Linked DNA regions of Homo sapiens. The protein of the gene in region 4 purifies or fractionates together with the protein of the main gene of each other region. This does not show direct contact. Each region holds a gene or a part of one and is shown on either strand. Other genes may lie near its edges.

Evidence for each region. The genes of interacting proteins can lie anywhere in the genome.
Region 1: the proteins of KCMF1 (region 4) and MRS2 purify together in Homo sapiens (affinity purification with mass spectrometry; 3 studies listed by BioGRID and IntAct, with this or other methods). This does not show direct contact.
Region 2: the proteins of KCMF1 (region 4) and SBF1 purify together in Homo sapiens (co-immunoprecipitation; one large-scale study listed by IntAct). This does not show direct contact.
Region 3: the proteins of KCMF1 (region 4) and PNO1 fractionate together in Homo sapiens (co-fractionation; one large-scale study listed by BioGRID). This does not show direct contact.

Annotation. Positions count from the first base shown.
Region 1 is NC_000006.12:24,412,936-24,416,435, reverse strand, and holds part of MRS2 (magnesium transporter MRS2 homolog, mitochondrial isoform b precursor), read right to left. Parts: intron 1,421-3,500; exon of another isoform or gene 1,404-1,420; coding exon 1,273-1,403; intron 40-1,272; coding exon 1-39. UniProt on the Homo sapiens protein: Magnesium transporter that mediates the influx of magnesium into the mitochondrial matrix and regulates magnesium metabolism. Also permeable to calcium, sodium and potassium ions.
Region 2 is NC_000022.11:50,447,768-50,451,035, forward strand, and holds part of SBF1 (myotubularin-related protein 5), read right to left. Parts: intron 884-3,268; coding exon 776-883; intron 678-775; coding exon 466-677; intron 1-465. UniProt on the Homo sapiens protein: Acts as an adapter for the phosphatase MTMR2 to regulate MTMR2 catalytic activity and subcellular location. Promotes the exchange of GDP to GTP, converting inactive GDP-bound Rab proteins into their active GTP-bound form.
Region 3 is NC_000002.12:68,167,888-68,171,387, reverse strand, and holds part of PNO1 (RNA-binding protein PNO1), read right to left. Parts: intron 1-3,500. UniProt on the Homo sapiens protein: Part of the small subunit (SSU) processome, first precursor of the small eukaryotic ribosomal subunit.
Region 4 is NC_000002.12:85,025,387-85,030,967, reverse strand, and holds part of KCMF1 (E3 ubiquitin-protein ligase KCMF1), read right to left. Parts: intron 3,080-5,581; coding exon 2,912-3,079; intron 1-2,911. UniProt on the Homo sapiens protein: E3 ubiquitin-protein ligase which accepts ubiquitin from an E2 ubiquitin-conjugating enzyme and then transfers it to targeted substrates, promoting their degradation by the proteasome.

The sequences.
Region 1 (3,500 bases), on a different chromosome or scaffold from region 4:
TCTTTGAAAATTTTAATATCTGTTTCTAACTCTGATAGACTATAAGAAATAGATACACAAAAATGATCAATAGAATAAACTTATAAGAACATTTCATAATAGTGTTTTTAGAGTATCTTATCAAATATATTATCTTATACATTCATGCTAAACAATGACTTATTTAAAAAAAAAAAAAAAGTTGAGTATTTACCAGGCAAATTAAGAATCAATTTGGCCAGGCATGGTGTCACGCCTGTAATCCTAGCACTTTAGGAGGCCAAGGCAGGAGGATTGCTTGAGCTCAGGAGTTTGAGACCCTCCTGGACAACAGTGAGATCTTGTCTCTACAAAAAAATTTAGAAAATTAGCTGGGCATGGTGGCATGTGCCTGCAGTCCCAGCTACTTGGGTGGTGGAGGTGGGAGGATTGCTGAAGGTTAAGGCTGCAGTGAGCTGAGACTGCACCACTGCACTCCAGCCTGGGCAACGGAGTGAAACCCCGTCTCAAAAACACCCACAAAAAACCCAAACCAAGGCTGCAGTGAGCTGAGACTGCACCACTGCACTCCAGCCTGGGCAACGGAGTGAAACCCTGTCTCAAAAACACCCACAAAAAACCCAAACCAGATCTAAATTAATTGGTAAAATTATCAGTGATATAAATTTCATCATACATTACTTATCTCAGAAACATAAATCGCTTGTGAATTTAAGATTTTTGGTTTGGGAATTTTATTAATCAACATGGCAGTGATAATATAGAACAGACTAGTTACTCTTAACTGATAAAAACACTCCAACATTTTTGGATAAGAAACTACTGATTCAGGAATTTTAAATGTTAATTCTTGAAGGGATTTCGGGAGTATAACTCCTGAGAGCATGTTTATTCTATTTATGATACATATATAATATTGTTATTAAATTCTGGAATGCATTATGATTTTAAAGAAAAAGAACAACATGGACTTTGAATTTGGATTTAGATCTGCCATTTACTAGCCATATAAATTTAGGCAAGTTACTCAAACCTCAATTTTCTCATCTTCAAAATGAAGACAATATCAACTATTGAATGGGTGATGAGATGAGATCACATACGGAAAAGAGCCTTACATGACATTTCATGCAAAGTATCTTTTCAACAAACAGTAGATTGTGTGCCCCTTTTAGCTCAACTTCCCACCTAGGCTACTTTCATACTTTAAAAAAAGTTATGAAACAAAATGTTAATAATTGATTTTAAGATATTTGTCTCCAACTCCCAATGTGATACATCATCCATATTTACCTTTTGCCATTCTGTAGTAAAATGTGCAGTTTGCTTCTGTCTACAGAAGAATGTTTGGGGTCCACCAAAGCATCCAAGGTCTCAAGGATCAGTGGCTGCAAAATGCTAAGTTTCCCCTGAAGGGTGTTGATCTAGATAACAACATGACCTTTCATAAGAATTAAAACAATCTTTTTAGAATATTCAGGATCAGTGAATCCTCTGATTAAATACAGAAATCTGTAGTAGCTTGAAATGCTGGTAACATTTCAGAACATAGATAATTCTAGAATGCCTATTCCAGATGATTCAAAAACTAGATCCTCTGGGTTCAAAGAACTATGTATGATGTTATCTTTAGGCACAGATTTGGTTGACAAGGAGCTAACTCTCGTAAGAGTCTTTCTCCTCCCGCCCGGCCAGCCGCCCCGTCCGGGAGGTGAGGGGCACCTCTGCCCGGCCGCCCCGTCTGGGAAGTGATGAGCCCCTCTGCCCAGCCGCCACCCCGTCTGGGAGGTGTACCCAACAGCTCATTGAGAACGGGCCACGATGATGATGGCGGTTTTGTCGAATAGAAAAGGGGGAAATGTGGAGAAAAGAAAGAGAGATCAGATTGTTACTGTGTCTGTGTAGAAAGAAGTAGACATAGGAGACTCCATTTTGTTCTGTACTAAGAAAAATTCTTCTGCCTTGGGATGCTGTTAATCTATAACCTTACCCCCAACCCTGTGCTCTCTGAAACATGTGCTGTGTCCACTCAGGGTTAAATGGATTAAGGGCGGTGCAAGATGTGCTTTGTTAAACAGATGCTTGAAGGCAGCATGCTCGTTAAGAGTCATCACCACTCCCTAATCTCAAGTACCCAGGGACACAAACACTGCGGAAGGCGGCAGGGTCCTCTTCCTAGGAAAACCAGAGACCCTTGTTCACATGTTTATCTGCTGACCTTCCCTCCACTATTGTCCTATGACCCTGCCAAATCCCCCTCTCCGAGAAACACCCAAGAATGATCAATAAATACTAAAAAAATTTAAAAAAAAAAGTCTTTCTCCTATAGACATTCATTATGAAGTAATGAGGGATCAAGTAAAATAAAATCTGCTATTATTAAAACACAAGCTTTCAGTAATACCTGTGTTCTCTGTAAACAGAATATGGTTCAAAATTCCTACAAAGCTCTTTGAAAATAAAAACTTGAGCTTTAAAACATAAACATATCAGAGTAAAGTCAAAAATAGACTATTTAGGTTAACACAAGTATGGTTTGATATTTGATATTCGGCAGGTATGCACTAATCCTGCTATATAGTTGTTAAAATACTGAAACACTTCCATGCCAGTTGGCAAATAGCATATACTAACTAAATCAAGCGGTAAAACTGATGACGTAAATTACAGCATATAGTCTTTATCTCAGAAGCACAATTACTGTGAAACAGATTTTTTTATTTGGAAACAAGTCCAGAGTCACAGTGCCTCTGCAGACATGTTGTTTATTTCGTCTCCAGAGGAACTGCTTCCGGGTTAAGAAGTCCTTGGGTGGGAGGGAAGACTGGACAGCCAAATAGGCAGACCACATCTTTTAATCTAAGAGATATCAAACCCTCTGCTCAGCAAGGTGTGGACTTTTGTAGTGGTTGGGGAGGCTGCTGAGGGTCACAGATAGGGTATTTGTGAGGCATATCTACTCATGGTATGTCTTGGTCCCTTAGGTGGGTTTGGGGAGCTTTCCCTTGTTCGAAAACTTATCCCTTTTGAGAGGTGGCTGGTCTTGCTTCTATGTAGTGTTGTTTCGTAAGGAAATCTTCCTGGGACCCCATTTAAAGGAAGAAGAATGTGTATCCCAGCAGACATCCTGAACTCCCTCTCTATTCTCCCCACAGCCAATCTCTAGGCCGGAGACCCATGCCAGCCTAGCCTCTCTCCTTCCCCTCCTGCTCCCTTTAAGATCCCTGTCTTTCTCCTAACAGCATGAGCTCCTGAGAGCTTACCCAGCCTGTGGAGCCCATGACTTACCACTGTTTACATCTTCTTTCTCTCTTCTGCTTTCCCCCTGCTTGGTAACTGGGCTCCCACTACTTATCATCTCACTGGCTGGTGCTAGCTGGTGCTCATTAATTACCCCAAGCAGGAAGTGTAGCCATCTATTCTTTCAGAGCAAGGCAGACAAAAGAAAAGTGTGCCAGGTTCACCCAACCCAATGCACCTCATGTCCTCTCTACCCTCTCTCCTCCTCCCACTCTGGTTAG
Region 2 (3,268 bases), on a different chromosome or scaffold from region 4:
CAAAGAAGCCTTTGATGGGGGGCTGCAGGCCCAAGAAGACGACGCCCAGAAAGGAGACAGTGAAGGGCGCCTCACACCCTCCAGACTCCAGGGAGCATCCCCACACCAGAGCCTCAGGGTCTTGGGAAAGCAGCCCCCTACACAGGGCAGGCGCCCTTACGAGGAGAGGGATGGCCAGGCAGGTAGATCTGTAGAAGCAGCCACGGCAGCAGCTGCCTGGGATGGATCCTGCCAGACTCCAGACTCACGGGGGCCCCACCACTGCCCTCTCTCTACTCCTCCCTCAGCCACTGCAGGCTGTGGTCAGCTGTGGTCACCAGTTCGACACCCCAAACCCCTCCCAGTGGTGGTGTATACTTAAGCAAGCTCCTCAAAAGCACCCGCAATCTCCCACCAGAGGACTGCCTGGGACCCCAGAACACCAGCTCAGAGGTGTCCATGTGGCAGTGGGAGGTGCCCTCATACCTGTTCTCACTCTCTGCTGTCTGGAACTGGCTGTACAGGGTGCTGGTGCTGCGGCGGGCAGCCTGACGGGAGCCGGATGTGGTTGAGCCACTACTCTGGTCGCTGTCCAGGCTGAGGCTCAGGGTGGAGCCCACGGGCCCCTCCTGCAGGTACACACCCAGCGAGCGACGGTGGTGGGGTGCGGTGGACACAAGGAGGGAGCTAGGGGTGCCCTGGGAACAGGAGGTTGGGACTTGGGTCAGGGCTGGACAGACTCCACTTTCTCCCAGCAACACGCCCACCGTGGACGCTCACACTGGCCCTCACTCACACGGCCGTCTGGCCGGCCCTCGAGGCGCTGTGCAGCCTTCACCCGGTCCCAGGTGTCCTTCCAGCGCTCAGCGGGTTGGCCCAACTCTGTCTCCAGCCTCTGCAGCTCCTGGGGGAAGAATTAATGGCAAGTTTATTCAAAAGGAAATATCCAGACTAGAGCACGAAAAGACAAAAGGAAAACACAGGAAAGAGACACAACGGAAAGGCCTAACGCGTGTGTGACTGGCCACAGGGGGAGGTGGCAAGAGGGAGGGAAGGAATATGCAAAATGAATATTCGGAGACAACAGTTGAAAAATTTCCCAAACTAACCAGAGGCATCAAACAACATAATCAAGAAGCACTACAGACCCCAACAGGGTAAGTTAAAAACACACACCCCGGCCAGGCGTGGTGGCTCACGCCTGTAATCCCAGCACTTTGGGAGGCCGATCACCTGAGGTCAGGAGTTTGAGACCAGCCTGACAAACATGGAGAAACCGCATCTCTACTAAAAATACAAAAAGTTAGCCCAGCATGGTGGCGCACGCCTGTAGGAGAATCGCTTGAACCTGGGAGGCGGAGGTTGCGGTGAGCCGAGAACGCGCCACTGCACACCAGCATGGGCAACAAGAGCAAAACTGCTTCTCAAAAAAAAAAAAGACCACACAATACTGATCTTCAACACTGCAGGGTCCACAATGTCCAGCTTACAATAAAAGAACAGCAGAAAAATGGAGAAAAACATTAAAATAGACCCTGAAATGAAACAGGAGTTAGAACATACAGTAAATTCAAGAGAGTGATTTTAGGGCCAGGCGCGGTGGCTCACGCCTGTAATCCCAGCACTTTGGGTGGCCGAGGCGGGTGGATCACGAGGTCAGGAGTTCAAGACCAGCCTGGCCAAGATGGTGAAACCCCAACTCTACTAAAAATACAAAAATTAGCCGGACGCAGTGGCAGGCACCAGTAATCCCAACTACTCAGGAAGCTGAGGCAGGAGAATCACTTAAACTCAGGGGGCGGAAGTTGCAGTGAGCCGAGATCACACCACTGCCCTCCAGCCTGGGCGGCAAAGTGAGATTCTGTCTCAAAACACACAAACACACACACACACACACACACACACACACACCCCAAAATGGGACAGAAAAACTGCTGAAAAACAAAGAGAAAAGTCCCAAAACCTGCCAGAAGAAAAAAAGACATGCTCTCTTTGAAAGAGCAACAATAAAACTGACGGCTGACTTCAAAAGAGAAACACGAGGCCAACTGTCAACTTCCAGCCATGACAGATAATTAGTCTGAACAGCCCTCCCTCCATATGCAAATGATGAAACTGGACAAGAAGGGGAAGCCGTTGTTTCCAGATGTCAGACAAGCAGTGCAGCTTGAGAGACAGGAGCCTAAGACATGGGACCACATAAGATGGGCCCCACAGTCACCTGTTTTCTGCCCAGCCACAGTGCAGGGAGGCAGGGCCAGAGCAACACACGGGAGCTTGCTGAGCCGAGGAGGCAGAGACGGGACGTCCAGGGGCGCTAGTGCAGCTGGGTCTGCAGGGCAGCCCACAGAGGGGAGGGAGCACCACAGCAAAGGGGCTCTAGAAATCTAGACAGAGCCCTCCTTGAGTCGTTGGCCAAATTAGGCTGCCATGTGCAAAGCAAGATGTCACAAGGCCTGGCAGAGAACAGCTACTAAGAAGCTATGACCTGACGCCGGCAGCAGTGGCTCACACCTGTAATCCCAGCACTTTGGGAGGCCAATGCGGGTGGATAACCTGAGGTCAGGAGTTCAAGACCAGCCTGGTAAACATGGCAAAACCCTGTCTCTACTAAAAATACAAAAATTAGCTGGGCATGGTGGCGGGCACCTGTAATCCCAGCTACTCGGGAGGCTGAGGCAGGAGAATTGCTTGAACATGGGAAGTGGAGGCTGCAGTGAGCCGAGAGTGCGCCACTGCACTCCAGCCTGGGAGACAAAGTGAGACTCTGCCTCAAAAAAAAAAAAACAAAACTATGAGCTGAACCCAAATTCTAGAGGAATGCTAAAAGATACTGGACTTCCAAAAAGCCAGTGTGGCAAGACCTTACCGAAGACACAAAGACACAAAACTCCAACTGAAGCCCTGGAGAGGCCACACGCCTTGGGCTGCTCTATCCCTGGAGCTTCTCTAGAGGTGCTGGAGAGCTGCCCAAACAAAGCTTAGAAACAAGCTTCAAACAGACCAAGCTGACGCACAAGCTCATTACCTACCTGCGAGAATAAAACCCAAGACTCTAAGCTTAAAGAAAGACAACACAGGCAGGGCACAGTGGCTCCCGCCTGTAAGCCCAGCACTTCGGGAGGCCGAGGAGGGAGAATCGCTTGACCCAAGGAGTGTGAGAACAGCTTGGGCAACATGGCAAGACCCCATCTTTATATATATTTTTAAGTTATGTTTCAAGATTTAAAAGAAAAGATGGACATAATGGTTTATCAGATGGGGAATCTCTACAATAAAAAGCGTTAAA
Region 3 (3,500 bases), about 17 Mb from region 4:
GAGACTCCAAGAGGCAGGGGACAGGGAACCCAGGATGATGGCTGTGCAGCCAGAATGCACGCAGAAAGCATGGGGGCGTTTTTGGAACAGAACATCTCCAGGAGAGATTTCTCAAATATTAGATGCATTCGAATACATCAAGAGGAGATACAGACAACGTATAGCTTCTTACTGAATTAGTACGACGAAAATGAAGAAAGGACATAGACACATAAGAGTTACTTCCTCAAGTGAAAACAATGCTGCAAAAGAAAGATAAGGCAGTCACAGTATTTCACCTGGCTCAGCTATAAGTACACTGAGCACTGATTTCTGTTTTCAGGTAATACTGAACACGAATCTAACAAAAACCACAAGGGGACCATCAGGAGGACAGAGAAGAATAAATCGGAGTGACAGAAAGGCTGAGTGTGTGCAGTGGAAGTAAGGGGGTGAAAGACAGCTAAATCTTCATCTTTGATGGTAGAAAGTCAATAGTGAATCTGAAAAATAAGAGGCTGTATATGAACAAAATATCTGGAAATACAGAGACAAATAATTTTTTAAGATAAGCTAAAAGAGTTGAAATTGGTTCCCCTGAAAAGGGTGAAATGGAGGTAGGCAGTAGAAATTTTTGGCTTTTTTTTTTTTTTTTTTTTTTGAGACGGAGTCTTGCTCTGTCCCCCAGGCTGGAGTGCAGTGGCGCAATCTCGGCTCACTGCAAGCTCCGCCTCTCGGATTCTCGCCATTCTCCTGCCTCAGCCTCCCAAGTAACTGGGACTACAGGTGCCCACCACCACGCCCGACTAATTTTTTTGTATTTTTAGTAGAGACGGGGTTTCACCGTGTTAGCCAGGATGGTCTCGATCTCCTGACATTGTGATCCGCCCGCCTCGGCCTCCCAAAGTGCTGGGATTACAGGTGTGAGCCATCACGCCCGGCCAATATTTGGCTTTTTAAAACTATGTGTATGTTTAACTTTGATTAAAATTATTTAAAACAGAGCATGACAGATGAGGAAATAAAGACAACAAGAACAGATGGGAGTAGTTTTGCTGCACAAAGAACCAAAGTAATGGGGCAATAGTTGGAAAGGAATGGAGGCTTCAAGACACAGAGGCAACATCATTTCCCATCTGCTGTATTAAACATACCTGGAACCAATTGTTTTTAGTTTTCTATCTGGCTCACATTATACTTACTGTATTTTGCCAGGTTATTGGCAACTCATCAAAAATAACTTTTATAGGTACACAACAGCCCATCTAACAGCTTTATTATAATTAATATAAACTGTTAAACGTGGATTTCCAACTAGCCTGTCTACAGCAAAAGCAAGAGATAGTACATCTCTTAATTTCAAGTAGTCTGTAATTCAGTTTGTAAGAAAACACAAAAGATATAAGTAATTCAGTAGCAACATTATTCTCATAGCCACAAACTGAAAACAACCCAAAAGTCCATCTACTGTGACTGGATAAACAAGATGTAATACAGCTGACTTTTGAATAATAGGTTTGAACTGCACAGGTCCAGTTACACACAAATTTTTTTCAACACATATACTGGAAGATATTTTGGAGATGTGAAAAAACCCAGAGAGGAGCTAAGTATCGTAGAAATGTCAAAAAAATTAAGAAAAAGCTACGTCATGAATGCATAAACTGTATGTAGGTACTAGTCTATCTTATTTACTACCGTAAAATATACACAAATCTATTATAAAAAGTTAAAATTAAAACTTACGCACACAAACACAAGCCATATATGATGCCATTTGTAGTCAAGAGAAATGGAAACAAATGCAAAGATGCAGTATTAAATCATAACTCCATAAAATTAACTGTAGTGCATACTGTACGACAACTTCACAGCCACCACCTATTGCTCTTGTGGTGAGCTCAGGTGTTGCAAGTATCCACTTAGAATGCCATGTGATGCTGATCACATGTGATGCTGATTATCTCCCATAAGCAGTTTTGACTCTCCAATAAACTGTCTATCACAGTAGAAAGTGATTTCTCGCAGTTCTTGCCTATTTTTAATCTTAGTGCAATATTGTAAGCTTTGGGACCATAGGACCCACCCAACGTGGGTCCCACATAAAGTGCCACTAGTGATGTTGGGAGTGCTCCAAAGCAGCACAGAAAAGTCATGACAGTACAAGAAAAAGCTGAACTGGCCAGGCGCAGTGGCTCACACCTGTAATCCCAGCACTTTGGGAGCCCGAGGCGGGTGGACTGCGAGGTCACGAGATTGAGACCATCCTGCCTAACACGGTGAAACCCCATCTCTACTAAAAATACAAAAAAATTAGCTGGGCATGGTGGCAAATGCCTATAGTTGCAGCTACTCAGGAGGCTGAGGCAGGAGAATCCATTGAACCCGGGAGGTGGAGGTTGCAGTGAGCCGAGATTGCACCACTGCACTTCAGCCTTGGCGATAGAGGGAGACTCCATCTCAAAAAAAAAAAAAAAAAAAAAAAAAGAAAAAAGCTGAATTGCTTGATAGGTACTGTTGACTGAGGCCTGCAGTTGCAGTTGCCCACCACTTCAAGATAAATGACTATACCATAGGACCATTGTAAAAAAAAGAAAAGGAAATTCATGAAGCTGTCACTGCAGCTATAACAGCAGATATGAATACACCTGCAGTTTTGCCAAATACCCCTTTATCTTATAAAATAAAAATAAAGCCCCTAGGCGCCCAGGCAAGACAGAACAGACTGTGGCAATAAGATATCAAATTGTAAACAAGACCTAAGACCACCTGGGCAAGGGTTAAGTCATACACCCTACACTTAAAGAGTAAATGACATTCTAATTGCCACAGGATATTTTTTTTTCTCTAGCAGCTTAACAAGCACTGGCCTTGTGATAAACAATATTAAAACAATTACAGCTCACCAACAGCTAGATACAGATTGACCCCAGCTTCCCTCTTCCCACACTCTGTTCCACAAACAGTAACTACAGCTTTGATTGGACAAGAGACTGATCCCAGTAACATCTCCTGATAAGAGATCACTGACCATGGACTGGTACTACCAGCTTCCAGAGGCAGTGCATTCAGTTGTCATGTCCCTGTCCCTATTTCATCTTGTAACATACAGGATCTAATTGTCAGGTATTTTAAATGTTAAGTCTCCACCCCAAAGCGACCAGGGGTTGTACATTTACTCGGTATACAAGCATTAGGACCCCTCTTATATTCAGAGCTCCTCCTATAACCTGTTAAATAAGTATACTTGGCCAACGCATTCAGCATAAATTCCTGTCTCATCCTTTCCTCCTTCAGAGTGCCTGCTTTTGGTCTCTGCTGAAGGCTATACTTTCCAGCCTGTCAGAATGGCCACCCTGCAGACTGCAACCCTTTCTAAGAAATAAAGTTTCCTCTCCAAATTTATAGATCTTGTGATTCTTTTCTTGACAATCTCAAATTGGAAATGCAGCTTTTATGTGGGTGCAGGATTGTTCTAAGAAAGACACATCTATAGAGTCTAATATGATGGAGAAAAAAAT
Region 4 (5,581 bases):
TCAGCACTTTGGGAGGCTGAGGCAGGCAGATCACTTTGAGCTCAGGAGTTTGATACCAGTTTGGGCAATGTGGAAAAACCCCATCTCCACAAAAAATTTAAAAATCAGCTAGGCGTGGTGGCTTCCACCTGTGATCCCAATTACTTGGAAGGCTGAGGGTGGAGGATTGCTTGAGCCTGGGAAGCGGAGGCTGCAGTGAGCCAAGATCGCACCACTGCACTCCAGCCTGGGTGAAAGTGAGACTCTGTGTCAAAAAACAAACAAAAACACCAGGCATATAGATCAATGTGAATAGACTGAGAGTCTAGAAATAAACCCTCATTTATAGTCAACCTATTTTTAACAAGAGTGCCAAGACAATGCATTGGGTAAAGAATAGTCTTTCCAACAAAAGATACTGGGACAACTGAATACTCACATGCAAAAGAATAAAGTTGGCCCTTTACCTCATTCCACATATAAAAATTAATTCTAAATGGGTCAAATATCTAAATGTAAGAGCTAAAACTATAAAACTCTTAGAAGAACACACAAGTTTAAATCTTCGTGACTTTGAATTAGGCAGTGATTTTCTAGATACAGCATCAAATGCACAACAAATGAAAAAATACATAAACGGGACATTATCAGAATTAGAAGTTTTGTGCTTCAAAGCACACCACCAAGAAAGTGAAAACACAACCCACAGAATGGGAGAAAATTTTTGCAAATCATCTATCAGATAAAAAAACTTACATAAGGAATAAAAAACTATTACAATTCAATAACAAAGACACATTATCCAATTAAAAAATGGGCAAAGGATCAAGGTATTTCTTCAAAGTAGATATACAAATGGCCCATAAGCACAAGAAAAGATGCTCAACATAATTTATATTTCAGAGAAATATAAATCAAAACCACCTGAGATACTACTTTACACCTACTAGGATGGCTGAAATAAAAAGGACAAAAAGTGTGGGCTAGGTAAGAAATTATAGCACGAAGCCAGGCGTGGTGGCTCATGTCTGTAATCTCAGCACTCTGGGAGGCCCGCAAGTGGATCACCTAAGATTAGGAGTTCAAGACCAGCCTGGCCAACATGGTGAAACCCTGTCTCTATTAAAAATACAAAAAAAATTTTCTGGGCATGGTGGCGGGCACCTGTAATCCCAGCTATTCAGGAGGCTGAGGCAGGAGAATCGCTTGAACCCAGGAGGTGGAGGTTGCAGTGAGCTGAGATGGCGCCATTGCACTCCAGCCTAGGCGACAAGAGTGAAACTCTTGTCTCAAAAAAAAAAAAAAAAAAAATTATAGCATGAAACATTTATATATTTTCTTACAATGTCTTCTAATCAACTGTAGAAACAATCTGCCTTTTTTTTTTTTTGAGATAGCGTCTTGCTTTGTTGGCCAGGCCGGAATGTAGTGGCACAATCAGGGTTCACTGCACACTTGACCTCCTGGGCTCAAGTGATCCTCCCATCTCAGCCTCCCAAGTAGCTAGGGCTACAGATGCATGTGCGCCACCACATCCAGCTAATTTATTGTATTTTTCGGGGGTGGATGCAGAGACAGGGTTTTTGCCATGTTGCCCAGGCTCATCTCAAACTCCTGGGCTCAAGTGATCTGACCATCTTAAGCCTCCCAAAGGGCTGGGATTACAGGCGTTAGCCACCATAACCAGCCAACAATCTGTTTTCTGGTCACTACAAAAGCTATTATTGCTGGGCATGGTGGCTCACGTCTGTAATCCCAGCACTTTGGGAGGCGAAGGCAGGTGGATAACTTGAGGTCAAGACCAGCCTGGCCAACATAGTGAAACTTCATCTCTACTAAAAATACAAAAAAATTAGCTGGGCAAGGTGGCACACACCTGTAGTCTCAGCTACTCAAGAGGCTGAGGCACGAGAATTGCTTGAAGCCAGGAGGCAGATGTTGCAGTGAGCCGAAATCCGGCCACTGCATTCCAGCGTGGGCGACAGAGTGAGACTCTGTCTTAAAAAAATAAAAAATAAAATAAAATAAAGCTATTATTTGTGTGTTAATAGCACGAACAAAAGACAGAGCATATTTCTTCTTTACTGAAGCACTCTTCTATTTCATTCCTTGTCAGTTGTGTATATTTCTGAATGGTTTTTTTAAACAAGTAAACTATGATTAAGATGAACAGACAGAATTACTTAGTACGTAAAAAGTAAGGCCGGGCGCGGTGGCTTACGCCTGTAATCCCAGCACTTTGGAGGCCGAGGCAGGTGTATCATTAGGTTAGGAGTTCAAGACCAGCCTGGTTAACATGGTGAAACCCTATCTCTACTAAAGATACAAAAAATCAGCCGGGCATGGTGGTGCACGCCTGTAATCCCAGCTCCTTGGGAGGCTGAGGCAGGAGAATCGCTTGAACCTGGGGGGTGGAGGTTGCAGCGAGCTGAGATCACGACATTGCACTCCAGCCTAGGCGACAGGGTAAGACTCCTCAAAAAAAAAAAAAAAAAAAAAAAAAAAGCCAGGCACAGTGGCTCACGCCTATAATCCCAGCACTTTGGGCGGCTGAGTCGGGCAGATTGACTGAGGTCAGGAGTTCGAGACCAGTCTGGCCAACGTGGTGAAACCCTGTCTCTACTAAAAATACAAAAAAATTAGCCAGGCGTGGTGGTGTGCACCTGTAATCCCAGCTACTCGGGTGGCTGAGGCAGGGGAATTGCTTGAACCAGGGAGGTGGAGGTTGCAGTGAGCCAAGATCGCGCCATTGCACTCCAGCCTGGGCAACAAGAGCGAAACTCCGTCTCAAAAAAAAGTAAGATTTATTTCATGTTTAATGAATTTGGGGCTTATGGTATGCTGCTGGGGAGTTTTAGAACACTTTGCCTTTACTTCTTCAACGTACATAAAATTCTAAATGATGTAATTCATTAAATTTTTAATTACTTACCAAAATCTACCCTTGTTAATATGCACTGCATTGGGTGGTCAGTTGTATGCCTTGTTGTTGTTGCACCACTTTCATAACAAGATGCACAAAGATCGTAATCGTAGCAAATTAAACACTTATATCTGCGACCTCGAAAATTTCCTTTTAAACATGCATCACAGCTGACACCTATAAAAAAAAGAAATATCTTTAGTTACCAGTTGTAAAGGCCACTCTTGATTTCATTTTTATGAATGTTTCAGGTGCTCATTTAACCTCATATGTCCTTTCCAAAATGACTAGAAATGACTTAGTAAAATGATACGGGAAGTTTTAGCCATGTGCTGGATTCATTACTCTGATTTATACTCCACATGAAAATAATTTAAAATGACTGATACAGGCTGGGTGCAGTGGCTCACGCCTGTAATCTGAGCACTTTGCGGGGGTCGAGGCGGGTGGATCACTTGAGGTCAGTAGTCCAAGACCAGCCTGGTCAACATGTTGAAACCCCGTCTCTACTAAAAATGCAAAAATTAGCTGGGCGTGGTGGCTGGCACCTGTAATCCCAACTACTTGGGAGGCTGAGGCATGAGAATTGCTTAAACCCAGGAGGTAGGGTTGCAGTGAGCTGAGATCGCGCCACTGCACTCCAGCCTCACAACAGAGTGAGGCTTTGTCTCAAAAAAAAAAAAAAAAAAAAAAAAAAAAGCCTTGATAAGCCAGCAAGAAGGTAAAAACCAAGACGAAGAGGAACTGGTGACTGGAAGCACTAAAGAAGGCTTTTCACCATGAGGGTATTTGCCCAAGCAGGTAAAAATCTAAGCTTAAGGTCCACAGCATTATTGGACAAAGGCCTAGTGAAGGTGGGATAATTAACAGAAGATTCCTCATAAAACCAAGACCCTAATATACTCTCAATGCATGGGTAGGCTAGAAATCCTCCCTAGGGGATTACAAAAATTACCCCAGTGAAAGCCCCCTGCCCTAGGGGCACAAAATAACACAAAAAGCCATAACCACAAACCAGTCCTCATGGGTTTATAGCCCAAATTCTATCAAATGGTTCCAAAGACCTTGGGTCAAGAATTTTAAGTGGTCTTAAATTAGAATTGATACCAAGCATCTGGCATATATAAACATCCAAAGAATAAGTTCATAATTTAAACCATAAAATACACACAAAAAAACAAAGCACCATCAGAAAGAACTAGCAGGAGCAGCAGAATCAGTCATGAGTTCATATCAGAATTGGGGCATCAAATAATTCTTGACCTGTTAAAAGAAATAACTGGGTGTGGTGGCTAACACCTATAATCCCAAGCACTTTGGCAAGGCGAGGCAGGGGGATGGCTTGAGGCCAGGAGTTCAAGACCAGCCTGGGCAACATAGAGAGATCCTGTCTACAAAAAAATTTAAAAATTAGCTGGGCATTGTGGCCTGTGCCTGTAGCCTTAGCTACTTGGAAGGTTGAGGTGGGAGGAATGCTTGAGCCCAGGAGCTCGAAGCTGCAGTGACCATGATCAAACTACTGCACTCCAGCTTGGGAACAGAACAAGACCCTGTCTGGAAAAAATAAAAATAATAATAATAATAATAATAATAATAATAATAATAAAGGAAAGAAAGAAGCTTGAACAGGGCTGGGTGCCATAGCTCACACCTGTAATTCCAACACTTTGGGAGGCTAAGACAAGAGGGCTGCTTGAGGCCAGGAGTTCAAGACCAGCCAAGGCAACATAGAGAGATCTCATTTGTATTTGTTTAAAAAAAAAAAAGTTAAAATATGCCAGGCGCAGTGGCTCACGCCTGTAATCTCAGCACTTTGGGAGACTGAGGTGGGCGGATCACCTGAGGTCAGGAGTTCAAGACCACCCTGACCAACCTGGTGAAACCCCATCTCTACTAAACATACAAAAATTAGCCGGGCGTGGTGGTGGGCGCCTGTAATCTCAGCTACTTGGGAGGCTGAAGCAGAAGAATGGCTTGAACTCAGGAGACGGAGGTTGCAGTGAGCCGAGATCATGCCACTGCACTCCAGCCTAGGCGACAGAGTGAGACTCTGTCTTTAAAAAATATTTTTAAAAAAGTTAAAATTTAAAATTCTGTAGGTGGGTTTCATAGTTTTATTCACATGTGATCTGCTTGTTTATGCTGAAAACCCAAATACAGCTAAGTTATTAGAAGCAGTAAGCAAAGCTGTTAGATAGAGACCTCCTAAATAAAGTACTGATTGTATTTCTTCACTGCAAAACAGACAGAAAAACATATTATTAAAAATATGTCATTTATTACAAAAAAATTAGTGAGGCATGGTGGTGTGTGCCTGTAATCTCAGCTACTCGGGTGGCTGAGGGAAGAGAATCACTTGAACCCAGGAGGCAGAGGTTGCAGTAAGCTGAGGTTGCGCCACTGCACTCCAGCCTGGGTGACAGAGCGGGACTCCTATCTCAAAAAACCAAAAAAATGTCATTTGTGATTCCATCGAGATGTGCCAAATTCAAAGAGAAGGAAAGTAGAACAGTGGTTGCCAGAAGCTTGAGGAAAGGGAGAACGGGGAGTTACGGTTTAGTGGGTAGAGAGTTTTCAAGTTTGGGATAATGGAAGAATTCTGGAGATGGACAGTGGTGATGGTTCCAAGAATGTGAATATACTTAATGCTACTGAACTGTACACCTAAAAGGGGTTAAA